Linked DNA regions of Homo sapiens: region 1 is linked to region 2. A link means that fine-mapping ties the variant in region 2 to the expression of a gene that starts in the linked region. Tissue or cell type: testis. Region 2 holds a variant in brackets; the other region holds the start of a gene. All regions are shown on one strand. Distances are between the middles of the regions. Region 1 holds the start of SCN3B (sodium voltage-gated channel beta subunit 3). Region 2 overlaps SCN3B (sodium voltage-gated channel beta subunit 3).

Evidence for each region.
Region 1: it holds the start of SCN3B, and the variant in region 2 is fine-mapped to the expression of SCN3B in testis (GTEx, PIP above 0.99).

Annotation. Positions count from the first base shown.
Region 1 is chr11:123,646,677-123,663,549 of GRCh38, reverse strand. SCN3B (sodium voltage-gated channel beta subunit 3) reads left to right here and starts at 8,926. Exons shown (of 7, transcript NM_001040151.2): 1 at 8,926-9,324; 2 at 9,724-9,803. The coding sequence starts at 9,749. LOC105369543 (a long non-coding RNA gene) reads right to left here and starts at 9,865. Exons shown (of 3, transcript XR_948124.4): 1 at 9,398-9,865. RefSeq lists silencers at 8,683-8,912, 9,473-9,542.
Region 2 is chr11:123,628,127-123,642,868 of GRCh38, reverse strand. It overlaps SCN3B (sodium voltage-gated channel beta subunit 3), which reads left to right. Exons shown (of 7, transcript NM_001040151.2): 4 at 198-423; 5 at 4,545-4,683; 6 at 8,663-8,748; 7 at 9,093-13,681. The coding sequence ends at 8,726. LOC124902777 (a long non-coding RNA gene) reads right to left here and starts at 4,330. Exons shown (of 2, transcript XR_007062929.1): 1 at 4,249-4,330; 2 at 1,395-1,902. The variant G/C (reference allele first, on the strand shown) is at 8,904.

The DNA of each region.
Region 1 (16,873 bases), 20 kb before region 2:
GTGGAAGCAACTTTGGAACTGGGTAACAGGCAGAGGTTGGAACAGTTTGGAGGGCTCAGAAGAAGACAGGAAAATGTGGCAAAGTTTGAAACTCTCTAGAGACTTGTTGAATGGCTTTGACCAAAATGCTGATAATGTTATGGATAACGAAATCCAGGATGGAGATGAGGAACTTGTTGGGAACTGGAGCAAAGGTGACTCTTGTTACGTTTTTGCAAAGAGACTGGAGGCATTTTGCCTCTGCCTTAGAGATCTGTGGAACTTTGAACTTGAGAGAGATGATTTAGGATATGTGGTAGAAGAAATTTCTAATCAGCAAAGCATTCAAGATTTGACTTGGATGCTGTTAAAGGAATTCAGTTTTGGAAGGAAAGCAGAGCATAAAAGTTTGAAAAATTTGCAGCCTGACAATATGATAGAAAAGGAAATGCCATTTTCTGAGGAGAAATCCAAGCTGGCTGCAGAAATTTGCACAAGTAGTGAGAAGCAGAGTATTATTTCCCAAGACAATGGGAAAAATGTCTCCAGGGCATGTCAGAGGTCTCCATGGCAGCCCCTCCCATCAAAGGGCCTGAGGCCTAGGAGGAAAAAGTGGTTTCATGGGCTAGGTCCAGGGTCCCATGCTGTGTGCAACCTAGGGACTTGGTGTCCTGTGTTCCAGCTGCTCTAGCTGTGGCTGAAAGGGGCTGATGTAGAGCTCAGGCTGTGGCTTCATGGGGTGCCAGCCCCAAGCCTTGGCAGCTTCCACATGGTGTTGAGCCTGCAAGTACACAGAAGTCAAGAACTGGGGTTTGGGAACCTCCACCTAGATTTCAGAGGATATATGGAAATGCCTGGATGTCCAGAAAGAAGTTTGTTGGAGGGGTGGGGCTCTCATGGAGAACCTCTGCTAGGGCAGTGCAGAAGGGAAATGTGGGGTCAGAGCTCCCACACAGAGTCCCTACTAGGGGACCATCCACCTGAGATGGTCCCCTACCACAGATGGATGCGTGAGCCACTGTGCCCAGCCCCAAATCACTTCCAATAGTAGAAATGGAAATAAATGTGAGCTTGGAAAAGATCAATATAAACAAGAAAGATAATTATTTACCCAAGTTTTGGTATATCTGAGTGATGGCAGTTGTAGTGGTGGTGGGTTAAGTCATGGAATAAATGCTTAGAAAGGGAAAATTGTAAGGAGTGCTTCCTACAATCATGCAGAGGAAATGGGACACACCTGTCCTGGAAGACAAGGCCACCATCCTCCAGACCCCAGAATGGTAGATCCACTGACAGCTTGCACTGTGCACCTGCAGAAGCCACAGACACAAAGCCAGCCCATGAAAGCAGCTGGGAGGGAGGCTGTACCCTGCAAAGGCACAGGGACAGAGCTGCCCAAAACCATGGGTACCTACATCTTGCATCAGCGTGACCAGGATGTAAGACATGGAGTCAAAGGAGGTCATTTTGAAACTTTAAGATTTGACTGCCCTGCTGGATTTATGACTTGCATAGGGCCTGTAGCCCTTTGTATTGGCCAGTTTCTCCCATTTGGAATGGCTGTATTTACCCAATGCCTCTACCCTCATTGTATCTAGGAAGTAACTAACTTGCTTTTGATTTTACAGGCTCATAGGCAGAAGGGACTTGCCTTGTCTCAAATGAGACTTTGGACTATGGACTTTTCAGCTAATGCTGAAATGAGTTAAGAGTTTGGGGGACTGTTGGGAAGGCATGATTGGTTTTGAAATGTGAGGACATGAGGTTTGGGAGAGGCCAGGGGGCAGAATGATATGGTTTTCTGTGTCCCCACCCAAATCTCTTATTGAATTGTAACTCCCACAATTCCCATGTGTTGTGGGAGGAACCCAGTTGGATGTGATTGAATTATTGGGGTGGGTATTTCCTGTGCTGATCTTGTGATAGTGAATGAGCCTCACGAGATTTGATGGCTTTAAAATTGGAGTTTCCCTGCACAAGCTCTCTGGCTGCTGCCATACACGTAAGACATGACTTGCTCCTCCTTGCCTTCTGCCATGATTGTGAGACCTCCCCAGCCATGTGGAACTGTAAGTCTAGTAAACCTCCTTCTTTTGTAAATTGCCCAGCCTTACGTATGTCTTTATCAGCAGCATGAAAACAGACTAATACATAGTGTGTCTTAAAAATAAAACTTTTATATTAGATGAGGCTAAACAGTTGCTTACAGAAAACAGAAAAACAACTAAGAGGTTTTCATTCATGTTAATCCATGTGAGATCTCCAAATTTTAAGCACTAAAGAAAAAGAAAGAAAGAACACAAAACATATTGGATTTTCCCATGTCTATTTTCTTAGATTTTATACTTTCCCACCATACTAGAAGTTTTATGAGTAAAGGAATTATTCCTACTTTTTCTCACACATAAATACACACAGCACACTCATTTGAGAACTGCACAACATACGACAAGTCGTTAACTTCCTGGCTGATGTGCACATGGAAGTGTCTTTCAATGATGAAGATCTTAAAGAAAGATATTAAGATCTTAAGGCTTTTGGAGACAAAAAATCGGGTTTCAATTATGGTTCTGCCCATGCACTTGAGTAACTAAGTCATTTAACTTCTCTTGTATTTATTCCCTCAAAAAAAAAAAAAAGGAGAATTCTAATAGTGCCTACTTTTTAAAATTGTTAGAATGATTAAATAAATTTATCAATTTATCAATAATATATGCATATCATTGTTCTGGGGCCAATGCATGCCCTTAAATATAATGATAATGATGAAAATGATAACAGATTAATGATAGATTATGAAAGCTGATTATTTCCCATTATGCTGAAGTTAACAGCTGAACCTATCTCTGTAAGGATTTTCAAAAATTATCTAAATAGGAACTGAACACTTCTTGGTTTATAGGACTTGACAAAATCCAAGACACACTCGTATTATCTCCCTTGTGCTTCCAGCAACTCTGGGAGGCAGACAATTAGAGAGAGAATTTGTTCAGAGAGATTAGGTGAAAAGGTCAATACTATACTATCTCAGAGCAGCACTAAGCATGGGACACAGGCCTCCTGTCTACCACCTGGCCCTCATTTTGTGGTTTCATTTTCTTCTTCAATAATATTGCTTATAAACATTGAGTCAATCAGGGCTCAATGTTGCTGTTGCCCAAAACTTTGGAACAACAACAGGACTTTGATCAGCACCAAAGATAATGACTGTGCTTATTTCTACAAGACATCTTGATATGATTTGTTTTGGTGTCCCCACCCAAATCTCATCTCAAATTGTAATCCCCACATGTCAAGGGAGGGACCTAGTAGGAGGTGATTTTATCACGGGGGCAGTTTCCTCCACCCTGTTCTCGTGATAGTGAGTGAGTTCTCACACAATCTGATGGTTTAAAAGTGTGTGGTGGTTCCCCACCCCACTTCCTGCCACAATGTAAGACGTGCCTTGCTTCCTCTTTGCCTTCTGCCATAATTGTAAGTTTCCTGAGGCCTCTCCAGCCATGCAGAACTGTGAGTCAATTAGACTTCTTTTCTTTATAAATCATCCAGTTTCAGCCAGTTCTTTATAGCAGTGTGAAAAATTAAACAATACACATCTTTTCTTTCTGCCTATCCTAAGAGCTTCAGCCATATGCATGCCAGAAATGCATTAAAAAATTATGCCATGCTAATAACAATACTTGAAATATATTATAACTTTGCTTCTGGGTAGCATAAAGTACTTTATCACTGATAATATTTTCTTTATTTCCATTTACACGTTTGGGTGATCAAAACTAAACATAAATAGTGCTCTGGCTGAGGCAGAACCATGGACTTTCTAGAGATTGGTCAAGAGCAGATGGCATTTCTTTTGTGCACAGGGTGTTATGGAGGTGGGCAGGGCTCTTCTGGATGTCAGGAAAGCGTTGGCTTCCACAATCAGTCAGGTGACATCCAATTCATTTCAACAAACATTTTTTGGCCCCATCTTACCTGCCAGGTTCTGTGCCATTTGCAAATCCAGGAAGGAATTGCATAATCTAATCATCATGTCACTGCTTCCTATTCTAATCCCAAACTTCCCTTGCCTGGTGACAACATCACACAGCTGGCTGGCAGGATGAGGGAATGATTTGGAAGAGCCTGATATCTCTCAGTCCCATATGTGTTCTTTGGCCACAGTTTAAAATGAACATATTTCTTCCCTTTCCTTGTCCCATGGGGTGTGCACTATTTTTCAAAATCCACTTCGAATAGCAAAAGCAGGTTACTTGACTTTCCTAGGTTGGGCTCTGATTTTTGCATCTTGACTGAGTTCAGGTACATGTTGATCTTGAAAAGCTTTTCTTGACATTTTTCTATGCTTTAAGAAGGTGCCCTCAGTTATTCAGACTGTCTCCCTTGTCCTGGGTTCTCCTGTACCTCCCTACCACCTACACTCAATGGAAAATGTGGCTTCCTACTTTACCAAGATCATTGTGTGTCTCTTAAGGTCCCACACCTTATCTTTACTTACAATGTCACTTCCACTGCTCCTGTCTCTAATTCCTCCCCAGTAGTCTCAGTGAATGTGTTTCATTCCACAAGAAAACTAACATCTCCCTGAATAGCTCCCATTCAATTCTTTCTTCAGCAGAGTCATGTCATTCCCTCCACCTCAAGATCCCTGAATATCTAGGCTCTGTACTCCATCCTCTTCCTCAATCTCTGAGCATAATTAGCTAAAGTCCCCTCAAAGGAGAAGTGTCCTTAAGTCTAAAGACCCTCTTTTCCCTGGCCTGCCATGGCATTGCACCTTGCTGGGTCTCTTCCTATTTCTCTGACTCTTGGTTTTCTGTTCCCCTATTGATTCTGGCCTCAGCTCTTCACTGTTTCCACACTATTCTCACTCCCTTGTGTATTCATTCACTTGTGTCCTCTGTGAAGAGGACCTAATATCTGCTTGGCACTGATCTAGGTGCAGGACGGCAGCAGTAGACAGAACAAACAAGGCTGCTATCTATCACCAAGGAGAACCAGCCTGATGGGAGGAACAGAAAATAAGCAAGTACATATATTAAAAATAAGATAATTTTGGATAGTGAGAGAAGATATGAAGAACAAGAAACAGGGTGATGAGATAGAGAGTAGCTTCAGGTGAGGAAGGTAGCAGGAAACAAGCTTAGAGTGACCAGGGAATGTCACTCTAGGGTGAAGTCATTTGAGGCAAGACCAAAATGACAAGAAACCAGCCATAGAATGAAGAATGTTCCAGGAAGAGGGGACATCAAATGCTAAGGCTATAATAATAATGATGGGAAATATTAATAGTGGGGAAGAGTTTGATAACTATGAGGTACATTTCTTTAAAATTAAGTGTAATTGGAACATGGTGGACAAGACAGAGAGTGGTAGAAATGAGTGTGGAGAGATAGCCAGGGCACAAGGCCAACATTAGGCCATGGTGACAAGTCTAGATTTTATTTCAGTGTAGTGAGATGCCATGGAAGGGCTTTAAGCAAGAGAAGTTCCCATCTTTTAGAATACAAAGACTGTTCTGTCTACTCTTTGGAGAATAGAGCATATGGTTTCACCCATTAACTGTGAAGGGAGAATGATTATTAAATTGGGAGGCCAAGTCAACAACAATGAGAAAGGATTGAAGCCAAAATGGCAGAAAAGAGGAAGGGAGAGCTTAATTTAAATGATTTTAAAACTCTCAGAACAAGGCCAAGAGTACTTCAGGGAACTTAAGGTACTTGCAAAAGTGACTGAGAGTGACAGCCAAAAATCAAGGGAAACAGCAGGAGAATGAAAAGACTAAATGCTCCTATTTTCAATACAGGAGAGGGAAGAAGTGGTATATGAAAAATAGAGGTGAAATCCTGACAGTGACTATTTACAATGGGGTTGATAAACAATTAGAAAACAACATTATGAATATTAGCAATTCACATGAATAGACATAAGAAAAATTTTGTAAAGCTGAGCCAATTCCTGCTGTGGTAGTTGATAAAATTATCAGACTGAAAATATTTCAGTCTGTCTGTGTATTTCAGTCTTGGTAAGGCTTTCAATAAAGTCATAGAACCTCAAAGACGATAGGAACTTTAACATAATCTATTCCAAATTTCTAACCTTTACAGGTTTTCCTTCCTAAACATCCCAGCAGTTGTTTGGATAACAACTGCTTGGATGTAACGAAAGGTAATTTGTCCTACTTTGGAAAGGTTTGAAATGTATTGCTGAAAATCTGTTTTTGTGTTAGTGTAAGCCATTGATCCTATTTCTTTCCTGTGGATGACTAGATGTCTAATTCCTCTCACAGATTCCTTTTATTCTAAATTTTCAGAATGTCTCATGCTGTACATATAAAAAATAGGGAGCTATGTTTGGGTTTTATGATTGAGCAACTGTTCTAAAGAATTTTAATTAGGCCAGGTGCAGTGGCTCATGCCTGTAATCCCAGTGCTTTGGGAGGCCAAGGCGGGCAGATCACCTGAGGTCAGGAGTTTGAGATCAGCCTGGCCAACACGGTGAAACCCCCTCTCTACTAAAAATTCAAAAATTAGCTGGGTGTGGTAGTGGGCACCTGTAATCCCAGCTACTTGGGAGGCTGAGGCGGAATGATTGCTTGAACCTGGGAGGTGGAGGTTTCAGCGAGCCGAGGTCACACTACTGCACTCCAGCGTGGGCAACAAGAGTGAAACTCCGTCTCAAAAAACAAACAAACAAACAAAAATGTTAATTAGTAGCTCATTGTCAAGGTAGAATGAGGTCTTTAGAAGCAGGCCATAGGACTATCTCTTCTTTTTTTCTATTGGTTCTTTTTTTAAATATCCATGTGTGGATCATGTGATTGTCAAGCCTAGAGATGAAACAAGGGTAAAGAAGAGAGATATATTGGGTGATTGAATCTGAATTCAATAAAAGTATTAACACAGTGTGATAACTGGTTGAAACTAATAAATTTTAACAGCAATAAGTGCAAAGTTTCATAATAAAATTTCCAAAATTGCCTGTACAAGACACAATGACTCTGCAACAAGTCAAGTGAAGAATACTCAGGGATTTTAATTGAACATAAGCTGATTATGACTAAGATGTGGCTGTAAATGTATTTAACTAGTTATATCCTTCAAAGCAAATGTAGCCATAATTCCACTGGATTTATGCTGGTCAGACCACACAGGGACCATCAGTTCCTGTTCTGGACGTCACTTGGAGAATCATGCTGAGAAACTGAAAGTCCTTCTGAAAAAGCAGCCAGGGTGGTACAGGATTGGAAACTACTAGAAAATACATTGGAAGAAACTAAGGAAGAGTAGCCACAAACAAAAATGTCTTAGGGCGGATGTGAGGAAGCATAGCTCTTTTAAAGAGAAAACAGCATTAGGGCCACTTAATGGAGTTTGGAGGGGGAGGAGGAGTGTACGGAATTCAACTGAACATAAAGAACTTCCTTAAGCATCAGAAGAGGTGAACTTGTGATGTAGAAAGTTCTCATCACTAAAAAGATCAAGGCCAGGCGCGGTGGCTCATGCCTGTAATCCCAGCACTTTGGGAGGCCGAGGCGGGTGGATCTCCTGAGGTTGTGAGTTTGAGACCATCCTGACCAACATGGAGAAACCCCATCTCTACTAAAAATACAAAATTAGCCGGGTGTAGCAGCGTATGCCTGTAATCCCAGCTACTCAGGAGGCTGAGACAGGAGAATCACTTGAACCCGGGGGACGGAGGTTGCGGTGAGCCAAGATCGCGCCATTGCACTCCAGCCTGGGCAAGAAGAGCAAAACCCCGTCTCAATAAATAAATAAATAAATAAATAAATAAATAAATAAATAAAATCAAGTCCATTCGTCCGAAATGTTCTTGGGGGAAGTCACAAATTGGAAAAGCGGTTGAATTAGGTCAACTTTAACTTCCCATCCAAATTTAACACAGTATACATGCTTCAAGGCCTAGTCCTCCAAACAGCACAGAGTTTATGGCCTGGTGGCTCCCTGCCCAGGAAGATCCGACTGGGGACATTCTGTTACTCTGTGAGATGTCAGGAGGGAGCATTTCCTGCTTCTGGTCCACTCACCGTCAGCTGTTGCTCTGTTATTCCATTTTGGAATATCAGCGTTAAGCTTCCCCTTTTGGAAAGAGCAGAAGAGGAGAAAAAGGAAGCTGAAGAAGGGCTCTTGGATTACTCTTTTACTTCAGTTCCAGGCGTTCCTAATCTGTTATGTCAATTTGAGTTTATAGTTGAATGTAAAGTTTCAGGTTTCCCTTCCAGAGATGGGGCGGGGGCACTCAAACAGCTGCTAGGACTAGGGAGTGGCTAATAGTTGGAAGACGCCAAACACAATCTATCTGCTTTATTAAAAAGGAGTAATTAAAGGAAAAGGGAGAACTGCAAAGAACCTGGGGAAGGGAAGAGGAGTCCTCTTGGGCCCCCCTCCCCTTGCGCTGACATTTGGATCACCTCACTGAGTGATGAGGTGAAGACAGGAACAGGTGCGCCTCATCCCTACCCCATTTGCCCTAAACAGGGATTATCTTGCTGAGTTTGCTGTGTCCGGGGCCAATTAATCAAGGCTAGACAAAGGATAGACAGCGAGAACTGGAAGGCATGGGGTCTGGGAGGCGAAGCCAGGAACCGCGTACGGCGCGCCTTGCAGATGACATCATTGCCTGAAAGAGCTCTGGCCCTTCTCTTCCCGGAGCTACACCCGGCAAGTCCGTGCGGGAGCGGAGTGGGTTTGCCTGGAGGGCGTGAGCCGAGGGCGGCGGTGCGCCCGAGCTCGGGGGAGGTGCGGAGGCGCGAGAGGGAGACCTGGAGAGACCAGCGAGCGCGCGAGCAAAGATATCCCGGCTGGAAGTGTCTGCGCCGCTCCCGGCTCCGCCCCCGCTCGGCGCGGCGCTGGGCCTGGGAGGGGCACGCCCATCAGGGGGTGGGGAGTGTGCACTAGGGGGAGGGTCCGGGGCGGTGGTGGTGGCGGAGAGCCGCCTGCGCATGTCAGGGCTGACAGCACACACGGCCTGGGGGCCTAGAGAAGGGTTGCTGATCACCTGCCACCCAGGGTCGGGGCCCCGCACCATCCGGGGGCGAGCTCCCGGGAAGGGGCTCCGCCTCTACACCCACCCCCCAACCTCTGACATCGCCGGCCGAACGGGAGCTGCCGCTTCCTTCCCGGCCCCGCTGCACCTCCCCAGGGAGCCGAGGGCGGGCGTGGACGGGACCGACGTGGAACGCATTCTGTAGCCCAGACGGGCGGCCCCGGCGGCTTCGGGAGTGGGGTCACGCCCAGCTGGAGAAGCAGTTAGGGCGGACGAAGCAGGAGCCGCGGGGCTGGGAGGATTCCAGTCGGAACGCAACCGATCCTGGGGAGGCGAGAGGTGAATCAACCTGGACCCTTCCACAGCCTGGCTGCTAGGCCAGCAGTGCGACTCCCTTCCGAGCTGAGCTTACCCTGGGCGCAAACGAGCGAGGCAGGGGCGCGAGTGGAAGCTGGAGTTCCGGGGTGGGCGGGGAGGCGACTGTCCGTGGTGCTGAGCGCCGGCGAGAGCGGGCGCGGAGCGGCTGATCGGCTCCCTCGAACTGGGGAGGTCCAGTGGGGTCGCTTAGGGCCCAAAGCCCCCACCCGGCTCCAAAAGCTCCCAGGGCCTCCCCAGGCACCGGTGCTCGGCCCTTCCTTCGGTCAGAAAGTCGCCCCCTGGGGGCAGTTCGTCCCAAAGGGTTTCCTCGAAAGAATCTGAGAGGGCGCAGTCCTTGACCGAGGGAATCTCTCTGTGTAGCCTTGGAAGCCGCCAGCCCCAGAAGATGCCTGCCTTCAATAGATTGTTTCCCCTGGCTTCTCTCGTGCTTATCTACTGGGGTAAGTACCAGCACCTCGCCATGCCGGATGCAGGTAACAGTAACAATGCTAACAATAATAACACATTGATGTCGTTGGTGACAGAAAAGAGCTCTGGCTGGCTTGCCTCTGTGCGTATCTGCCAGACATGGAGATGGCAGGGGTTCCATGAGAGCTGGGATTTTGAGATGGGAAAGGCGCCTCCCCACCGCCCTTCCCCGCTATTCTCCAACCTCCTTTGGTGGTTCTTCCGCCCTTCCTCCAGTTTCCTGATCATTCCAAAGTATTTTTTCCCTTTCCCTTTGCTGAAAGGAAATGCAGTCACGTTCACGAATAAAAACCTCCTGTGTGGTTACATTTTATTTCTCATCAAGGAGTCTATACTCCTGGAAAGCTTACTGGGTCTTCAAATTCGTTTCTGTATATTAAAAAAAAAAAAAAACCATAAAAGCTGGATGCATGAATTTTGAGAGTGAAAATACTTTAGTTGCTCATCATCTTCTTAATTTTAACAAGGAATGGGAAGAAAACAGCCTTCAGCCATTTACTGCTATATATTAAATAAATAGGCAACTGTGAAATGCATCTTTCTTTTTCTTCTTCTTCTTTTTTTTTTGGTTTGTTTGTTTGTTGCATGAACCTGTGGAACTAAGATGCTTTGGTGTTAGGGGAGGAGAGCTGGGTTTTTGCCTTCAAAGGTGAATAGATTCTTGCTTGTCAGCTGTGAGAAACTGAGGTGACCTTCCCCCTCCAAATAAGGGAATCTTACACTTGGAACAGTAAAGGCTGAAGAGAGTGTCAGAGACGGTCTTGGAGTGCCTGAATGTGTGTAAAGGGGATTGATCTATGTGATAATGTCTGATTGTGTGATTGAGACAATGTTTTACTGTATGTAAATATATTTCAGTGTCTGGATGTGTGCACTAGCATGTGTGTGAGCATGTTGGCATAGACATCTGAATGCATGGGTGAGTGTAGTAGTATGTGTATGGCAGGGGTGGGGGTGGTAGTTCTGGGCATGTCTGCCTTGGTGTCTATGATTAGATCCTCAGATAAAATATAGGTTCTCTTCAGCAGACAGATTGCTTTACATGATCTTAGCTACCTTTCTCCGTGCAAAAATCAATACACAGGGTAATTGGACACAATTGTACCCACCTGCCTCCCTGAAACGAGGCATGTGAGCTTATGTTCCCATGGTTGGCATGAAACTCATCCTGCCTATACGGTGGCAGACATGCTGATGGGAGCTGCCTCTTTGCTTTAGTATTACTTTTTCAAGCCTCCAGGACTAACTCTAGCTGCCAGCATTATCTGGATTTTGCATGTGACCAGAGGCAGAGCCAAGCTTCCTGTCAAAATGCCTGATGAGACGGACTAGGAAGGTTGAGGAGGGAGGTAATGTCAGCCCCAAAGGCGGACTCATCACCAGCCATCCCCAGTAGAGTAGACCAGACCTGGAGATGGAGCAGCTATAATATGTTGCCAATGATCTCACCTGCCTTGAAGATTAAGGCTGAAATTTTCTCAGGGGAGGCTAAGGCTGAGGACACGAGGCTTAGAAGATGTTAGCCTGGCCAGATAAAAAGAGCGTCGGTAAAGCTGAAGTTGTGGATAAGGGTTGGAGTGAGACTCTGCAGAGACTTTCTTCCTGAACTCTAATCTAAGATTTTGAGATCCCTGCCTGAATTCCAGTGGAGGGAGAGAACATGCTATCATCCAAGAATCTTTTAACTAGAACTTGTGCAACCTGCATTGGAGTCTCAGCTTTGCCACTAGCTTACTATATAACAACCTTAAAGTGCTATCTGGTTCCTTCTGTGTAATGTTTGGAAGTTGGCACGGGTGATATCTAACATCCTTTTCAGCTCCACAGATGAATGGTAGAGAAATCTTTGAAGAATATTGCTAGAATTGACAGAGTGCCCATCCCCTCCCCGACCCCAAAAAACTTTGGAAGAAGTGTACACAGTATGCCCATCTTTGCCCATTCTCAGTTTCTTTGCAAACTGAGTGTTGTCTCACCAAACTGAAAAGCTGTGGAAGGGAAAGAGAAGTGGTTCAGGACACTTGGTTGTTAACTGTAAGAAAAACAGCTTCCCTTCGCCAGGCGCAGTGGCTCACGCCTGTAATCCCAACAATTTGGGAGGCCGAGGCGGGTGGATCACCTGAGGTCAGGAGTTCAAGACCAGCCTGGCCAACACGGCGAAACCCCATCTCTGCTAAAAATACAAAAATTAGTCGGGCATAGTGGTGCGTGCCTATAATCCCAGCTACTAGGGGGACTGAGGCAGGAGGATTGCTTGAACCTGGGAGGTGGAGGTTGCAGTGAGCCAAGATTGTGCCACTGCACTCCAGCGTGGGCAACAGGGCGAGACTCCATCAAAAAAAAAAGAAAGAAAAACAGCCGCCCTTCACAGATACAATTTCATTTGATTTGCATGCAATTCCAATATTGAACAATAATGCTGGGTTAGATGTGTTCCCCCTTCCAAAGTTGATTTTTTAATATGATGTACAATATGAAGGGAAAGAGTCTTTCCATTTACTTTCTGCATGCATGAAAAAAAGTTTCCTTATTTCCTTTGTTAAAGCATGTAATAATTTTTATTTTTTAAAGAGATTTAAAAAATAATACAATACAATAAATAATTAATACAATAAATAATTAATACAATAAAATAATAATAATTGTATTAAAAAAATTAATACAGACGATGTCTCGCCATATTGCCCAGGCTGGTCTCTAACTCCTGGGCTCAAGTAATCCTCCTGCTTCAGCCTCCCATAATGCTAGGATTATAGGCATGAGTCACCATGCCCAGCCTTTAAAATAAATAAATAAATAAAACCCTATATTTGCCTGTGCATCACAGTTTACAATGTAATTTTCAATACATTGCTTGTTTTGGTCCTCATGTCTATCCCTGAGGTAGTCAGGGGAAAGAGTGCTATTTCCAGTTTAGAGATGAGAAAATGAGCTCGGGGAAGGGAAAGGACTTGCTAGAGAACCCTTGTTTTCTGATTTCAGTCTTCCAGTGCTCCTTCTAGCACCTCTCATGGACACATGTGCTACTATGCACAATCGCCAGGAGGGCACCTGTCCTCCCATTTCTCTTCTGAGCTACCGTCCCATCTCTCCCCAACACCATCACCTGTCCTAGGGCCTCACTCACTAGCACCTAGTACCTTCTCTGCCCTTCTTCTCCAGGCCTGCCCTTCTAGTTGCCCTGTGTGTTTTCCTCTCTTCCCCTGGTGATCTTTCGTGCATCCTATTCAAGGCCCTAAGTGACCAGCTAAATTGACAGAACAAGTCACGTCAGGGTGTCAGCATCTAAAAATAACCTCATTTATTACCCCTTTTTGGAAATTGTTTATATTCTAATCAAATTTTTCATTATCTCAGTGCAAAGGAAAGCATTCTAGAGCAATCTCAGGAGGAAAAATTGGGCATTGTCCAAAGAAGAGAAAGATTTGAGGGTATCAGAGAAGCTGGTTCATAATTCTTTATTATCTGCCTCATGATAGATGGATGCTACTACTCCCTAGTGAAATATGATCATTATTAATAATCATGTTTTTCCTTCTCATAAATTTCTTCATTATTATTATGGGAATTGAAGAGAAGAACAAAGGTCAAATGATTTGGTCAACATTATTCCAAGAGTTTGTTACTTTTAGTCAGCAATGTAGTTTGAGCTCCTGCCATATTTACAGCCTTCTTTGAATACCTAGAGGGTTTCATAGAAAGAAGGGCAGTGGTGGACTGGGTGCTGTGGCTCATGTCTGTAATCCCGGCACTTTGGGAGGTCAAGGTGGGTAGATCACCTGAGGTCAGAAGTTTGAGACTAGCCTGGCCAACATAGTGAAACCCTGTCTTTACTAAAAATACAAAAATTAGCTGGGCGTGATGGCAGGTGCCTGTAATCCCAGCTACTCAGGGGGCTGAGGCAGGAGAATCGCTTGAACCCAGGAGGCGGAGGTTGCAGTAAGCTGAGATCATGCCATTGTACTCCAGCCTGGGTGACAAGAGTGAAACTCCATCTAAAAAAAAAAGAAAGAGAGAGAGACAGAGACAGAGAGAGAGAGAGGAAAAAAAGAAAGAAAGAAAGAGAAAGAAAGAAAAAAAAGAAAGAAAGAAAAAAGAAAGAAAAGAAAAAGAAAGGAGAAAGAAAGAAAGACAGTGGTGTGCTGAAGACTCAAAGGATGGAGAAACAGACATTACCTCTTGAAGCAAGGAGCAGCAAGTCATACTGCAAAAGGCAAGCAAACAGAGGTGGGGGAACTTTGTGGCCATTTTTCAATGTACTCTTCAGGATCATACGAGCAGAGTTCTCATGCCCTGAAACTAGATTTTGACCAGAAGGGAAGGAGTGGGACTTGCTCTATGATGATACCTTGGATTATTGTTGCCTTAGGGGCAACCAAGAAAAGAGAGGGGCTACCCCACTTTCTGCCATACCCCATTTGCCATCCTGACTGCTTTCCCTCCATTAACTATAAATGAACTAACTATGCTTCTATCTCTGCCATCCCATCTACTTGTTCACTAGAGCACATCACCTCTCACCTTTTCAAAGATGTTAATCCAGCAAATCATTTTCTTGCATTTCATTTCTTTCAAACTCCACCAGCTCTACTGTCATCTTCACCAAAACAAAATCGTCTTCCAATCCGATCCCTGTACCAGACCTCTTAACTGTTTTGATTCCACCCTTGTCCCTTTCACTTCATCAGTTTATTCCCAACACAGCATCAGATCATATGATCTTGTACAAATTAGATCCCATCATTCTTCCTCTCAGAACCTTCTGCTGCTCCATGCAAATGCCATAAACTCTAAGCAAATGCCAAGGTTCTAACATGGCCAATAAGACCTGCTGTGATCTGGCCCTCCCCATCCCTCCTACTACTTCATCCCCTTCTATTCTCACGTTGTTTGCTGTAATTTCCACATTGGACTGTTTGCTGTCTGTTGAGCATGACAAACACACTCCTTTGGGCCCCTTGAGCCCTTGAGTTGCAATTTCCTGTGTTTGACATGCCTTCACACAGATATGTGTATAGCTTGTATCCTCATTTCTTTTCTTCAGCGCCTGCTCAATGATACCTTCTCAGAAAGGCCATCCTCCAATGACCCTGTGCACACACTCTCTCCTGTTTTATTTTTTCTCACAGCACTTTTTACTATTTAATGTTGCTGTTTTCCCTCTCCCTCCATTGGAATGTAAGCTCCATAAAACAGGGATTCTTTTCTTTTGTTCTCTGGTGTATTCTTCGTGCTTAGAATAATGCCTGGCACCCAGAAGGCACTCAGTATATTTGGGAAATAAACGAAAGATAGAATAACATGAATAATGACATTTGTACAAAGCACATTCATGTAAATTAATCCATAAAATTCTCATGATAAACCTACTAGACAGATGTAACTTTCAGCATGATGTCGATGAATAAACTGAGTCCAGAGAGATTACATAGTACATCAAACCCAACTCTTCAGTTGCCAGATTCTATCTTCACCCTGCCTCTATAATTGTAACTGTGCATTCCTTGAGACTTCTTAGTCCACTTCTGAGTTTGTCAACATGAAATGAATGAATTTATCTTTGCCAGCTCTCATTAAATATGAATGTGCCTTGAGGTTCCATACTACACGGAGTTCTTGCTGCATACGCTCTACCCCTCTGCCCACTCACAAACTTTTGCGCAAACCACATTTCCTTTTTGTTTAATCAGATCTATAATCAATACTTCAGACTCATCATATGCTGAAGATGTTTCTGATCAGTTCTCCCTAGATGTGAGTCCTCTCTCCATTAACGTGGCTCACCATCTGCAGAAGCAATAGGTCCTCTTGAAGACTGTCAGATAAGACTCACCCAGCTTGCTGGAGAGTTGAAAACCCAATTACATTTATTTTACCTTGATGTTTACAACTTTAAGTTAATTCTAGTGCCACTAGTTTTTAAACTCCATGTTTTAAAATAAATACATTGCCTTCTAAGTCAATCAAACACAGTTTTTGGACTCAAAATTAATTTATGGCAGTGTCTTATTAAGCTCTAAATAAAACCTTCCTCTGCTTTTAGGAAAGAACGCTCTGCCAGGAGATGAACAGGCTGACCATTAACAGTGGACTAGTTTTTAAATGTAGTGTGTATTATTTCTTTTTTTTTCTGGGGGTTCTGTTTTTATTATTAATTCATGAAAAAGTAGCATCAGAAGGGATCTTCAAAGTCCTAATATAAGAATCTGCGGTGACCATCATGTTGTTTTTATTTTTTCAAGAGATAGGGTCTTACTCTGTCAACCAGTCTGGAGTGCAGTGGTGCCATCATAGCTCATTGCAGCCTCAAACTCCTGGGCTCAAGCAATCCTCTTACCTCCTGAGTGGTTGGGACTACAGTTGTGTGTTACCATGTTTGGCTAATTTTTATTTTATTTTATTTTTGTAGACTCAGGGGTCTCACTATGTTGCCCAGGCTTGTCTCAGACCCCTAACATCAAGCAATCCTCTCAACTTAGCCTCCCAAAGTGCTGGGATTGCAGGTGTGAGCCACAGCACCTGGCCTCGTCTTACTTTCAAATATCCCAAACAATGCTGTGTACACTCTCTTAGCATTTAGTTATTTGCATTTGTGAACAGCTCCAAAATCATAAAATTCTTTCTTTATTGCATTAAACTTATTTTTTTCTTATAACTTTTAGGGTTGGGCAGAATCAAATTTCTCTTCCATCTGCCAGCCTTCAAATATTTGAAGACAGATATGTTCTGTGTCCAAGCTAAGCAACTCGAATTCTCCCATTTTTTCCTCACCAGACTTTATCTCCAGATCCTTCACCATCTCCCTCACCTCTGGGCATGCACTCTTTGAACAACTTCCTTTTTTAAAATGTGACATCCTGAACTGATCATAATAGTCCAGATTTGTTCCAAAAACAGTGCCGAGAAACTACGCCTCCTTCCTCCTGCGTACTGTACATCTGTTAATGCAGCTCACATTTGCGCATGTTTTGCTGGCAGCCTTGTCCCGCTCAAGTTATTCTGAATTATCAAGCTGATATACTTGCCTCCTTTTAAAAAACAG
Region 2 (14,742 bases):
TGTCTTTGCTCCCTTCCCTACCCTCCTCTGTGCCTCTTCATCCCACCCCCACATTCTGGGTCTCCCGGTGGCATTGTCCCCTCTCTTCCCTGTCCATGCACAATTCTGCTCCTTTTCTCTGCCCTGTCCCTAACTCGGCTTCCCCCCACTGCCATCTCCTTTCCTGGCCCTACCCTCTTCTGCTCCTCTATCTGCAGATTTACGAGTATCGGAATGGCCACCAGGAGGTGGAGAGCCCCTTTCAGGGGCGCCTGCAGTGGAATGGCAGCAAGGACCTGCAGGACGTGTCCATCACTGTGCTCAACGTCACTCTGAACGACTCTGGCCTCTACACCTGCAATGTGTCCCGGGAGTTTGAGTTTGAGGCGCATCGGCCCTTTGTGAAGACGACGCGGCTGATCCCCCTAAGAGTCACCGAGGAGGGTGAGGCTGAGGCACAGGGTCTCTAGGGCGTCCTGCTCTCTGTGGACAGGGAAGGGTAGGACAGCAGTTTTCCACGAGTGAGGCCCTTAAAGAGTGCAAAAACCCATGTATTTGGAATGGTGACATCTAAAAATGTCACCATTGACCCATCTTCTTCTGGTGGCCAGCTTCCTGTAAATTCCCTAAGCAGCTTGTCTTTCTGTGCCTTTCCTCAAAGCAGAAAGGCTTGGAGATGATAGAATGAGCTCTTCCTGGTCCCTTAGAGAAAGAGGCTAGCCTCCATGAGGCCTAAAGCTACTGATTCAGCTAGGCCTTCTTCTTTGGCCTATGTTGAATCCCTGACTCAGTGGGCTCAGAGAAATCTCATGAGGTTACCCGGAAGTCATCTCTCCTTCTACCTGTAAGCAATACATGCCTCTAAGCCAGGGGTTCTCAAACTTTAGCAAACCTCAAAATCTCCTGCAGGGCTTTTTGGAAGCCAGCCTTTCTGCTTTTGTCGGTGGAGCCTGAGAGTTTGCACTGCGTGACACACTGCCTGGCGGGCAGTGCTGCTGCTGGGACCACACCTTGAGAACCTCTCTCTAAACCAAAGTTTGACAATCTTTTTTTCTTTTGTCTTTCTTCACAGTAATCACACGTGCAACCTCTTCCCCATCTGTGGCATCTCTTATTACATAAATTCATTCCCTGCTGGGAGAAGGGGACAGGTTGATAGCTCTCTAGTCTTGTTTAAAATCTTTGGACTCCTACAGCTAGTTCCGTGTTCGTGAGTGGGAAGGCCTTTCAGCAGCCTAACTCAGGTGTTTCTGTTGCAACCGGAGTCCTGCATCCTGAGGGGGGAGTTCCAGCCTTTCTCAGTCTATCTCCAGCATTATCACTGCTAGTGAGCAGGCCAAAGTGTGGGGCATGAAGGAAAAGATCAAGTTAAAGACAGGGCTCTTCCTAGAAAAAAGGATCCAGGAATCCCAACCTCCAGGCCACAGGTTTATTCATTTTTTATCATGTCGTTGTGATAAAAATAATGAAGCGGAGATTCAGTCCTCAGAGTGAATGAACAAAGGAGAAAGAGACATAACGGATCAGACGATATGACTAAAATGGAAGGTAGGTCAATTCTGAAAGTGCAGAGGGACTCTCAGGGCTCCTGAATCCAGACCTGATGAGTCACTTCCCTGCTCGGAGCCCCGCTCCTCTGGTGTGAAATGAAGGGGTTGGCGGGGGGCTCTCTGAGGTACTCCCCTGTTCTGAAGTTCCTTTATCCCCCGTTTGTTACACGCCTTTCCTCTGGGGGGTGGGGCCCTGGCGCCCTCTCCTGGTCACCATCTGGAACTTTTGGTTGGTGCCCGCCAGACCTTAGCACAGTGCTCAGCCGTCTCCACCTCTGCTCTCTCGGGCTTTTGCCTCCAGACACCCTCGTGCATAGCTGGTGGGAAGTGTGGCAAGGCTGAGCTAGTTCGTCTGCCAGGTACCAGAGCAAGCCTCGGGTAAAAACAGAAGGAAAAACAAGTTTATTATCAGAGCCACAGAGCCTCGTGGATGGTCGGGTGTGAAGGAAGCGTGGATATCATTTATTTAATCCAGGGCCTCTGGATAAAGGGCAGACATCAGAATCGCCCACATTGGCGTCCTCCAGATGTAGACACCTCTGCAGCACCCTTGCAGGTGTGAGATCGGCAGGGGTGAGTGAGGTCATATGCAAGTTGATGACTCCCCAGGTGATTGGAGGGTGTAGCTCTGGTGCCCCTCTTTTTGTGGCTGGGAGAACAGAGTTCTCTGCAAGAGCAAGGGGCTTGCTCAGGGACGTGCAGCAAATTCGCGCTGGAAGCAGGGTGAAAATCCAGATTGTTCGCCTGTCTGGAGGGCTTGCTTTCCACTGTTTCTTTCCCCACCCCCACCACCCCAACCCCCTGCCACTTTTTCTTTTTTGCCTCTGTGACATCAGATACTCCCTGCCCTCATCTTGCTCAGAGCTACGCACCCACCCCACCATGACACCTGCCCATCAACCCCACATCTCCTCCATTCCTGTGGTCCCACAAGGTCTCCCTGGTTCTCTTTGTTCAAGTTGGGTTTATTCTGGCTTTGGCTGTCACCTCCTGGCCCTAAGGCAGAAACCTGAGGCCTCTTCACCTAGAGGTAACTAAAAATACTGAGGACAGCTTCCTGTATTGCCATTTGTGGGCTACTGCATTTTGAAAGAGAGAGCATGCTTTAAGCCAAACAAATCATAAATAATGCACGAGGTGGTAGCAAGGCGGTGAGATGTTTGAGCTGTACGGCATTCTCATGTGCCTCACGCTGCATCTATGACCTCTAGCTCCAGTTGGAAACCTGGGTGATCCTGGAGCCTTCGGACTGCTCTCTGGGCTGAAAGTTATGGCAGGCTGTGCTGTGCTCTTAACAACCAAGGACTTGGGGATGACTTAGATCCAATGGATAACTGCAGATCATAAATCTGACTTGCTGTTGAGAGCTGGCAAGGGGAGAGGTGGCTACAACATTTCTCCCACTAGCAAGGAGTAGATATATCAGGATATCTGCCATGTAGTATGTTTTAATGGTCCTTTTTGTTGATCATGAAACAAATAAGATAATATTTATTTTCACTCATTCAATAAGTACTTATTGAGCACTTTAAATATTCTAAGATTTATACAGCAGGCAGATAATCCAGAAATAAATATGTTCTCAATAAGCACACAGTCCACAGAAAAGAAAGATAAGCACAATACAACTCTTATAACAGATGGATGAGAAAAGTGCATGGAGGCCAGACGCGGTGGCTCACGCCTGTAATCCCAGCACGTTGGGAGGCCAGGGCAGGAGGATCACCTGAGGTGAGGAGTTCGAGACCAGCCTGGCCAACATGGTGAAACTCCGTCTCTACTAAAAGTATAAAAAATTAGCTGGGCATGGTGGTGGGTGCCTGTAATGTCAGCTACTTGGGAGACTGAGGCAGGAGAATCGCTTGAACCTGGGAGGCGGAGATTGCAGTGAGCCGAGATCATGCCACTGCACTGCAACCTGGGCAACAAGAGCAAAGCTCCATCTCAAAAAAAAAAGAGAAAAGAAAAGTGCACGGAGAAGGTTGTGAATAGCTCCGCATGAGAAGTTGGGGATGGTTTCACAAAGGAGGGGACCTCACAGGAATCTAGAACTACTGCGAGACTGCAAAGCAGGAGAGGATATTAGCACAGAACTAGCCGTGGGTGAAAGACACAATTCAGGAAGAGGGAAGAGGAAGAAAAGTTCACAGATTCTAACATACCACAGTGTGTAGCAGAAGTTTTTCTGGCCAACCAAATGGAAATGAGGTGAGAAAGCCCGGATTGTGAAGGCCCTTGCATGTCACGTGAACAGAGTTGGGGCTTCATCCTAAGGGGAGTGTGGAGCATTGAAGAGTTTTCAGCAGGGAAATGGCAGGATCCTAACTGTGTTTCAAAAGTACAGCCCTGGGGACAATGCGGTTGATACACTAAATCCTCCAATATTTATGTTTGGTTTTGGATGACCTGGAAGGTCTTGTTTCTAACCCAGACTTGTAGAGAACATGCGCATATCTCATGGAGGCTGTCTTTGTTGGCCCTGAATGAGTTTTCCAACGCTCTCTCCCCAGGAATACCACCCTCCACCACCGGCAGCTCAAAAGACAGAGGCAGTTGAAATAAGGCATGTTCCTTACATCTGTGTAGACTTTTAATCTCACAAGATGTTCTGAAATACATTAGATAATGTAATATTCACAAACCCCTGACTGGTGTTATTATCCTCAACCTACAAATTAAGAAACTGAGTCTCAAGTAAGGGAAATGGTTGTTTACACACCTGTAAATAGCAAAATGGACAGCCAGCTCTAGATATCTCACTTTGAGGCCAGGATTCCTTCCACTGCTCGGCTACTTCTTCCAGGCATCCCACTCCCTCTTCCCTGGCTCCTGAGCAGCTGATGACAGTCAGTGAGAAAGCCAATGGGCGGGAGAGTCAGGATTTGGAATACCTTTGACATCTTCTTGAGTTTCTTTACTCAGTCTTTATTTAAGCTGTACTTAAAAATATGGCTCCAATGACGGCTCTAGGTTTGCTGGATTTGCATATTCTGAACCTCATTCTCTTTCTTTCAGCTGGAGAGGACTTCACCTCTGTGGTCTCAGAAATCATGATGTACATCCTTCTGGTCTTCCTCACCTTGTGGCTGCTCATCGAGATGATATATTGCTACAGAAAGGTCTCAAAAGCCGAAGAGGCAGCCCAAGAAAACGCGTAAGTCCAGAGATGCCAAAGTAATAATGAAAGCTAGCACCTTCAGAATGCTTGCTCTCACAGGTGAGGTGCTAAGCAGTTTACATTCATCCTCCACCCTCTTCATGATCACTGCTTAAGAGATAGGCACCATTATTATACCCATTTTACAGATGAGAACACTGAATTTCGGAGAGTTGGCTTAAGGCAAACTCTTAATTCATTACGAAAAATTAAACATTTGCTTAATTCAAACATCACTTAGGAAACAAAGTGATGTTTGAATTCAGGCCTGTTGATTCTTGGCCAGCACACTTAACCACTAAGGCAAAGACCATCAGCTGCTACCACAACCCGTTAAAGTAATATTATTATGGCTGGGCATGATGGCTGTCACGCCTGTAATCTCAGCACTTTGGGAGGCTGAGGCGGGAGGATCACCTGAGGTCAGGAGTTCAAGACCAGTCTGACCAACATGGTGAAATCCCGTCTCTACTAAAAGTATAAAAAATTAGCTGGGCATGGTGGCACATACCTGTAATCCCAGCTACTCGGGAGGCTGAGGCAGGAGAATCCCTTGAACCTGGGAGGCGGAGGTTGCAGTGAGCTGAGATCGTGCCACTGCTCTCCAGCTTGGGTGACAGAGCGAGACTCCATTTCAAAAACAACAACAATAAAAGCCCAAAAACACAACAAAAAAGTAACATTATTATAACCGTTCTGTAAATGCCAAGCCGACTCATAGCAGCTTACCAAGGCACACAGATGGTAAGAGGAAAGGCTGAGATTTGAACCCAGGTCTCTCTAGTGCTAATGTCCATGCTCTTTCTATCTCATTGAACTGTTTGCTTTATACCATGGAGCTCCTCAGGCCATCTGGGCACTGCCCTTTGCTAGCAAAGGAGCTCCAAGCAACATGTTATTTCCCCTAGAGCCTGGCAGCGCTTAGATGTCCAGAGTGGGGACTCTAATCCTCTAAAGTCCAGCCTGTACCTTAGCCATTTGCTCAGAGACTCTAGTCACTTGAGGGTGAGCACATTTGAGAAACGGTGGGGTCTGTAAGAACAAAGAGTCTTAAGAGATCATGCTGGCTGGTTGTCTGGGGAAAGGAAAGATAGAAAAAACCCACAGATTTCTAGCAACATTGCTGAGGCAAACCGAAAACAGTCTAGGCTATTACCAGTTAGAAATGTTTGATAAAGAAAGCATCATTTTGGCCGGGCGCGGTGGCTCTCGTCTGTAATCCCAGCACTTTGGGAGGTCGAGGCAGGCAGATCATGAGGTCAGGAGATCGAGACATCCTGGTTAACATGGTGAAACCCTGTCTCTACTAAAACTACAAAAAATTAGCCGGGCATGGTGGCGGGTGCCTGTAGTCCCAGCTACTCAGGAGGCTGAGGCAGGAGAATGGCGTGAACCTGGGAGGCGGAGCTTGCAGTGAGCCGAGATCACGGCACTGCCCTCCAGCCTCGGCGACAGAGCGAGACTCCATCTCAAAAAAAAAAAAACAGAATAGAACAGAGAATGGAGGAGAGACAGTGTTCAGAGACAGAACGGCTGAGGGAGGGATGACTCTTCAGATTCAAGAAGCATAATATGCCCTGAGCAGGATGAATAAAATACATCTACACCTAAACACCAAGCATCTTTAAAGTGATAAATGGCAGCTACTAAGAGACCCTACAGCAAATATCATCTATGTGTTGAAACCTCAAGTGCCTGTAATATCAGGGACATATCAAGGAGACTGCCTCTCCCTGTTTCTATCAATATTGTGTTGGAAATCCTAGGTGAAGACCAAGTAAATACAAGGAAGAAAAAGACTTGGAAAGGAAGAAACTAAATTATCATTATCTATACCTACTATTTACATAGGATACCTAAGAGAATCTACAAAAATACTATTAGGACAAGGAAGAATATTCCACAAAATTGTTGATAGAAATCAAAATATAAAAATCACCTATATTCCAGCAACAAATTTAGTAACAAATTTAAATATTTAAAATATTAAAATGCTTTTAAAGTTACAATAGCAAGAAGTACTCCCCAGTTCCGGGGATAAATTTGACAAAAATATACAAGACATTTAAAGAAAAAGTTAGAAACCTTTACTGAAAGACTTTAAACGTAACTAGATGGAGAGTAAAACCTCACAATTGTAAACAATTTTCTCCCAAATTGATCTTCAAATTCAATGAAATCCCAATCAAAATGCCCATTAGATTTCTCAAAGAACTTAATAAGCTGATATTAAGTCACATGGAAGGCTAAGTAGCCAAAAATAGTCTTAACCAAGGGACAGCCAGATAATAAGTGTTTTAGGCTTTGCAGGCGCCATAGGTCCCTGTCATGTATTGTTCTTCTATTTGTTTGCAAACAACCATCCTTAGCTCTTAGGCCACAGTTTGCCCACCCTCGGTCTAAACCATTTCAAAGAAAGAGCAGTAAATTTGCAAGAGGTTGGTAGGATTTGTCTTATCGGAGATGAAGGTTTCCTTTGTTTTCTTTTTTTTTTTTTGAGACAGAGTCTCGCTCTGTTGCCCAGGCTGGAGTGCAGTGGCGCGATCTCGGCTCACTCCAAGCTCTGCCTCCCAGGTTCACGCCATTCTCCTGCCTCAGCCTCCCGAGTAGCTGGGACTACAGGCACCTGCCACCACGCCTGGCTAATTTTTTGTATTTTTTTAGTAGAGACGGGATTTCACCATGTTAGCCAGGATGGTCTCAATCTCCTGACCTCGTGATGCACCCGCCTTGGCCTCTCAAAGTGCTGGGATTACAGGTGTGAGCCACTGCGCCCAGCCAGATGAAGGTTTCTTACAGAGCTATCAGAATACAGAGTTTGTGATACTGCACAGGCATACGAAATGGACAAACAAAACAAAAAGCCACCAATCAGGTTAATGCATGTAGGAAAACCTGATATGTGAGAGAGATGACGTTACAGTGATTGAAGGAAGAATGAACTGCCCAGTAAGTGGTCTAGGGAAAATTCCTAATCTATATAGAAACAAAGAAAAACACAAAACAAAATTAGATTCCCCATCTCTCATACTAAACCAAAATAAATTATGAGGGGATTTAAACACAAAGTAAAATGTCAAACTTGAAAATTCCATTAAGGGAATATAAGAGACTCTCTTTATCACCATGCAATAGAGAGGATTTCCCAAATAAAATACAAAAGGCACAAATCCAAGAGGAAAAATAATTTTGATCACATTATATGTAAAGAATCAGCTGTTCATTAGAAGACTCCATAAGCAAAATTCCTAGACAAACAAGAGATTGGGAGAAATTGTCAAAACATGAAAGCATCAAAGGAAAATCAATGAGAAAAAGACAAAGATCTCAGAAGAACTGGAAAGCAGATGAACAAATTTCAGAAGCAGAAACCCAAATAGCCTGTAAACATGTGAAACAACTATAAAATATAATTTCACAGCTGTCATTTTGACCAACATTTTATTTTATTTTTGAGACATGGTCTCACTGTTGCCAGGCTGGAGTGCAGTGGTGCAATCATGGCCTCGACCTCCCAGGCTCAGGTGATCCTCCCACCTCAGCCTCCCAAGTAGCTGGGACTACAGGCACGTGCCACCATGCCAGGCTAGTTTTTTGTATTTTTTGTAGAGACAGGGTTTCACCATGTTGCCCAGGCTGGTCTTGAACTCCTGGGCTCAAGCAATTTTCCTGCCTTGGCCTCCCAAAGTGCTGGGATTAGAGGCATGAGCCTTGGCCAACATAATAATCTAACTAAATGCTGAAGACAACCTGGATAAATGAGAAGCTATACACTCCTGGTGGGTGTTCGTGTACATATATGGGGGAAATGATTATTTTAATCTGCAGAAAAGGTTGTTTTTCTCTTGAGAAACACAGCAGAAGGAAATGCAGAGCTGTTCTGTAGATCCTTGCTCCTGTGCCCTGCTCCTTCCCCATCTTGTGTTCCCACGCTGGGCACTGAAGCTCTGATTCCCTTTCCCTGTGTCCTCTATAGGTCTGACTACCTTGCCATCCCATCTGAGAACAAGGAGAACTCTGCGGTACCAGTGGAGGAATAGAACAGGAGCAGTGTGACATGAGGTGACCTACAGGAACATGGGAGGGGAAGGCAGATGTGGATGGCAGGTTGTACAAGTGACTTTGTTGCCCACAACTGAAGTGACTTTAAATTTGGTCCCTTAGGTCACTGTCTACCCTGCCTGGGGTCCCCGCCCTCAGGGTAATTCTTTAAGTCA[G/C]AAAGCTCTGTATGATGTCAGCGCTTCGGAAGGTGAACTGCTTTGACCTGAGTGTCGAGGCAATCTGAACTTGCCCATGGTAACAGAGGCACAGGATTCTCCAACTCCCTTCTTTGGTCAAAGAATTTTTGGGCTGGGCTGGGCTGGACTGGGTGGGAAATTCTCAGTGAGTTATTTTATCTTTGGTAGGTGGCCTGAACACCTGAGGGACTGGACATCCCATGTTCAGCAATGTCAATGGCATCAGGAGGGCGCCCCAAGGGCCCCATCGCTTCCCTTCATGCATCCATTGTTCTGTTCATTCATTCATCCATACATCCACCTGCCTCTGAGCTTTCACCTCTGACTCCCTAACTCCATCAGACCTCTACGCACCATAAGACTCTGCCAGAACTGAGAAGCCAACATTTCTACATAGACTCAACCTCACCCTCTCCTAGTTTTCCAACAAGACACTCCAAAGCCAACTGGATTTCTCCCCTGTGCTCCAAATGACTTTGTACAAGTGCTGGAGTTAGCACCTCCCTCTGCCCTTAACTGGCTGGAACTGGTTCATTCTCCATTACTGCAAGAGAATGGAAGTCTTAATAGAAGGAAGCAGGAGTGATTAGTTCGGGTTAAAGCAAAAGTGTGTCATGAACTTGGATTCCCTGAAGTCAGTTTTGTCAGGTTCATGGCCCACTTTGCTACAGCATCAGAGTGAAGCACGCCTGTCTAGGTTCTCCAGTGACAGAAAGATCCTGAAGCATGGACTAACATGCTCTCTGGAGCTTAGTACTCCAGAGCTAGATCCTGATGGGTCTCTAAGGTTCCCTCCAAGAAGACAAGGACAGGAGACTTGGGAAGGACCAATGGTAATTTAAGTGGCTCTTAAAAAGTCATGCAACATGTTTCTGGACACGTTCCTGATCCTATTGCGATAATGTATGTGTGCCCTCCCTGTGGGCACACCACCTGGGCATTAGGACTGAAATTCCTGAGTTCTTCCTCTCAAAATTTCTGTGCACCAGTATTATTCCTCATTTTACATACAGGAGGCAACTAAGACTCATACAGGGCTCAACTGAATAAGAGGCTTAAGAGGATAAACTGGAGCAGAAATAAGCCTTAGGTGCTGCCCAGTTTACACTTCCTGGGATGGATGTTTTTGTTTGTTTTGTTTTTTGTTTTTTTTGTTTGAGATGGAGTCTCACTCTGTCACCTAGGCTAGAGTGCAGTGGTGTGATCTCGGCTCACTGCAACCTCTGCCTCTTGGGTTCAAGCAATTCTCATGCCTCGGCCTCTCCAGTAGCTGGGATTACAGGTGTGCACCACCACGCCTGGCTAAATTTTGTATTTTTAGTACAGACAGGGTTTGACTATGTTGGCCAGGCTAGTCTTGAACTCCTGACCTCAAATGACCCACCCACCTCAGCCTCCCAAAGTGCTGAGATTACAGGCGTGAGGCACTGCGCCCGGTGGATAACTTTGTTTCTGAAAAGACTGACATTGAACTTGTCTATGGCAATGCTTCTTTCACAAGCACGGACTGGGCTGAGGTCAACTCTGATAGATTCAGATGACTAGAAATTGGCCAAAAAAGCAGGGAGAAGAACATGAGGTAGACTTAAAGAACTTCCTTTATGTAAAGATCTGTGACTCTGAAATATCCTCCAAAAGGAGAGTGCATCTGAGACTGATATTTAAACTAAGAAAAATGTTTAGTCTGAGATGGATCATAAGTAAATGAGCAGTGTGAGAGGGGAGGGATGGGTAGGTGCTTTCCAAATACTTCGCCTATGAATGCATAATTTTCAGATTTTTTTCCCCTAGATTTTGAGGGAGCAGAGAAACTGGAAAAAACTTTAGTCAATATCTCGTGTTTCATTTTAATTAAGTGACAGGTCCAAGTGTGACATCCTTCAGCACCCAGGGACAAGAGAGGGGAAAGATGCTTTATGGAATGTAAGAAGATGAAGGTGACTGGGATTCAGCGAGAGAGAGGTCCCTCAGACCTGGGACCTCCCTTTATAGGGAAAGACCATATTCCATAGGTTTAGGGCTTTACCTTAAAAGCTCATTTTTTTCATTCTTCCATCCCTAGGAAAGTACTTAAAACCAGACTTTTAAATTTTTATTTATTTATTATTATTTTTTTGAGACAGATTCTCACTCTGTCTCCCAGGCTAGAGTGCAGTGGTGCAATCTCAGCTCACTGCAGCCTCAACTGCCCCAGGTTTAAGCAATCCTCCCACCTCAGCCCCCAGGTAACTGGGACTACAGGCATGCACCACCATGCCTGGCTAATTTTTGTATTTTATGTAGAGACAGGGGTCTTGCCATGTCGCCCAGGCTGATCTTGAACTCCTGGGCTCAAGCAATCTGCCAGCCTCAGCCTCTCAAAGTGCTGGGATTACAGGCCTGAGCAACTGTGCCTGGCCCAAAACCAGACCGTTAACACATTAAAGAGTCTGATTTTGTTGAAGAAAATATTTGCAATAAATTCAAGACTCTTCTTATTGGTAATTTTCCACACAATCCCTCTGAAATAAGGGAGAGGATATAGACCTTTTTAACTTTATAGTTAGAAAAATTGGCCTCAGTGTGAAATTTTTCCAGTCCCATAGCTCATGGATGCCACCAGCTTGCGGTAGTAGCAAGATGCTTACTACCACACCGTTTTCCTCGGTGGCCCAATAGCTCGTGTATCTAAGTTGAACCCGGCAGTATGCATGATTGCCTTTTTCTCTTCTTTTTAAAAAAACCCAACTCAGATGCTGCTTGCGTGGCTTTTAATGAAGCTGAATGGTATCTATCACTTATTTATCCTTGACAGGTTATCTTCCCCACTCTTCCTTTTTCTAACTTCTCCATTCTTCTCATTCTTGACACTTTCATTAGAACTATATGGTTTACGAAGTATTTTCACTTAACTATTTTATTTCTTCTCTATAACTGGTCCTGTGAGGTCACATTACAAAAGAAGAAACTGAGGGTCTCTGAGGTTAAGTAGCTTTACTAAATTATAAGGAAACCTAGCTGGTAGGTAGACAGCAAGAATCCAGGTCTTCTGACTCCTCTTTCAGTTCTCTTTCCACTTAGACCATAGCTGCTTCCTTTTCTTATTTTTTAGCTTCCATCTAACCATTGCCTATCTTGCCTGTCCTAATGTTCTCCATCTTCTCTCACCCCTAATCCCACTCACTGCTTCTCTACCACTTTGCTTTTTGGTGGATGCTAGCAATGTGCTTTGAGAGTCAGTCCTATTTTGGTTCTCTTTCTAGTTGGTTTGTACATCATTATTTCTCCTGAATTGCAATTAAACTCCTTCCTGGGAGATTTGATAATGACTGTAAATCAATAAGGTACTGTGATCACCAGCCTACTTCCAATCTCCACCCACCTCCCTGTCTCTTCCCATAATCCTACGAAAGACCCAGACTAGATGTCTGTTTCTCTGGAAGCTTTATCTGGCATGATGTTGCTTATTAAAGGGCTTAGAAGAGTTCTCAAGGGCTATTAATATCACTTTAGAAACCCCATCTGTTGTCTTGGTGCTGGATATTTCCCATGTCTGATCCTCAATAACACAATTCACTAAAGGCCAAGCTTGGCTCAATCTGATTTTCCCATTCTTACTACTTCACAGCCATGAATGTGATTGCTCAATCCAGTTGGCCCTGAGAGCACCTTGCCCTGCTGACCTTCACTGTCACCTCGGTCTTGAATCAGAGCCCCAACCCAAACACTCCCTGCCTGTCCCTACCCCAGCCTTTATTCTCACCACTTGTTTAACGGCATGACCTTTTAGTTTCTCCATTCCCAGACACCCACACACCCAGACTTCCTTCTGAGTTGCAGGTTTCTCCTTAGATGTCCAACTAGAAATATTACTAGGAAAGTTACTTTTCAAAGCAGGAATGTGCTGGGAAGTAGGAGACAGCAACTCCCTCCTCTCTCCCCAAAATTATTGGATCAAAAAAGAAATTCCATCCATCTCAGAATCTGTGAGTCCTCCTCACATAAATCTGAGGGAAAAGGCTGTGTCACTGCATCTTTGCAGGAAGAAAGAGAAGCAAGAGCTAGACACACTTCAGAATATATCTTAGTTTCCCCTTTCCCAGTTTAACATGAAAATGAAAAAAGAAAAAAATGAAAAACAAAAACAAAAGAAGCCTTCCTCTCACCTCATTTTGTAAATGAAAAATCCCTAATTCAGTGAATTCACCTAGTCACTGCAAATGTATCTGAATAGTGCTTGGTGTGCTTGCCAGTCTGATCATCCACTCATTCTACTAACATCTTTTTGCACCCACTCTGTCAAGCTCTAGCCTAGACCTTTAGTGTGCCATGCAGTCACAGGTCTGAAAAGCAGCATCATCCAAACCTTACTTAATCTCTAAAATCTCAGCTGGTGGACAGCTCATGATTAGTTCAGCCCACTTCCTCCCCCTTAGTTGAGTTTGCAGCAGGACGCAGGAGATAAGCACTTCCAAGCAAGTCTGATTTATATATCAAACTCGGTCTCCATCCCAGGCCAGCTGACCCTCAGAGCCAGCAATGCTCTGTGCTTCCTCCCTGCGTCACGGCTTGGCAAGAGCTGCCTCTGCTGAGCAGTGTGTGTGATGGAGACGGAGGCCGCTGAAGGCCGAGTGCTTGCAGGCTTGTGAACTGCCATCGAACACAATCCAAACTCTGGAAATGTTCCTGACCACCTAAGCCCTCAACAACGTAATGCCTGTATGTGCTGTTTTTCAGTAAACTCCTTGTTCATGTCAATAAAGTATCCCTGAAAACCACTGTCTCTGGTTTTGCTCTACTTACTAAGTGTGTCTGCACCATAGACTATGGCTTCCCCCAGCACCCCAGCCTGCTTCAAATTCCCATACCCAATCTGTGGATATGCATGAGAATGAAAACCATGTAATAGCCTTACATTAAACACACACTAAATGTGTGATCTAGCCTCTCCGCTTCCCTTTCCTCCTCTACCCCAATACAAAGGAATACAAGAGTCACTTATGTTCTTGCCTGACATCAAACAAGTTTCCTTACCAGGCATCGAGGAGCTCCCTGCAAGGCTGACCTAATGAAGGGAGGAGCCAATCTGGCTCTCAGCTCCACCAGTTTAGGTAACATAAAAGAAGAACATGGAGCAGTCTCTCAACATTCATCTTCCTGGAAGTGTTAAGGCCCGAAGAGGGAAAAGTTCTATAAGAAACCATCATCGGGATTCACAGTCCACCACAATCTCCTGCAACAACAGTACTACTCATCATAAGATTAAAAATCGGCCGGGTGCGGTGGCTCACACCTATAATCCCAGCACTTTGGGAGGCCGAGGCAGGTGGATCACCTGAGGTCAGGAGTTCAAGACCAGCCTGGCCAACATGATGAAACCCCATCTCTACTAAAAATACAAAAATTAGCCGGGCATGGTGGCAGGCACCTGTAGTCCCAGCTACTCAGGAGGCTGAGGCAGGAGAGTTGCTTGAACCTGGAAGGCGGAGGTTGCAGTGAGCTGAGATCATGCCATTGCACTCCAGCCTGGGCAACAAGAGTGAAACTCCATCTCAAAGAAAAAAAAAGGTTAAAAATCATCCCAACGCTTTGGTAAGCTGAGGCAGGAGGATCACTTGGGGCCAAGAGTCTGAGACAAGCCTGAGCAACATAGTGAGACCCCATCTCTAAAAAAAATATATAGCCTAGCATGGTGGTGTGTGCCTGTAGCCCCAACTGCTCAGGAGGCTGAGGTGGGAGGAACACTTGAGCTCAGGAGGTCAAGGCCGCAGTGGGCCATGAATGCACCACTACCTCCAGCCTGGGTGACAGTGAATCTCAAAACAAAAGAAAATATTTT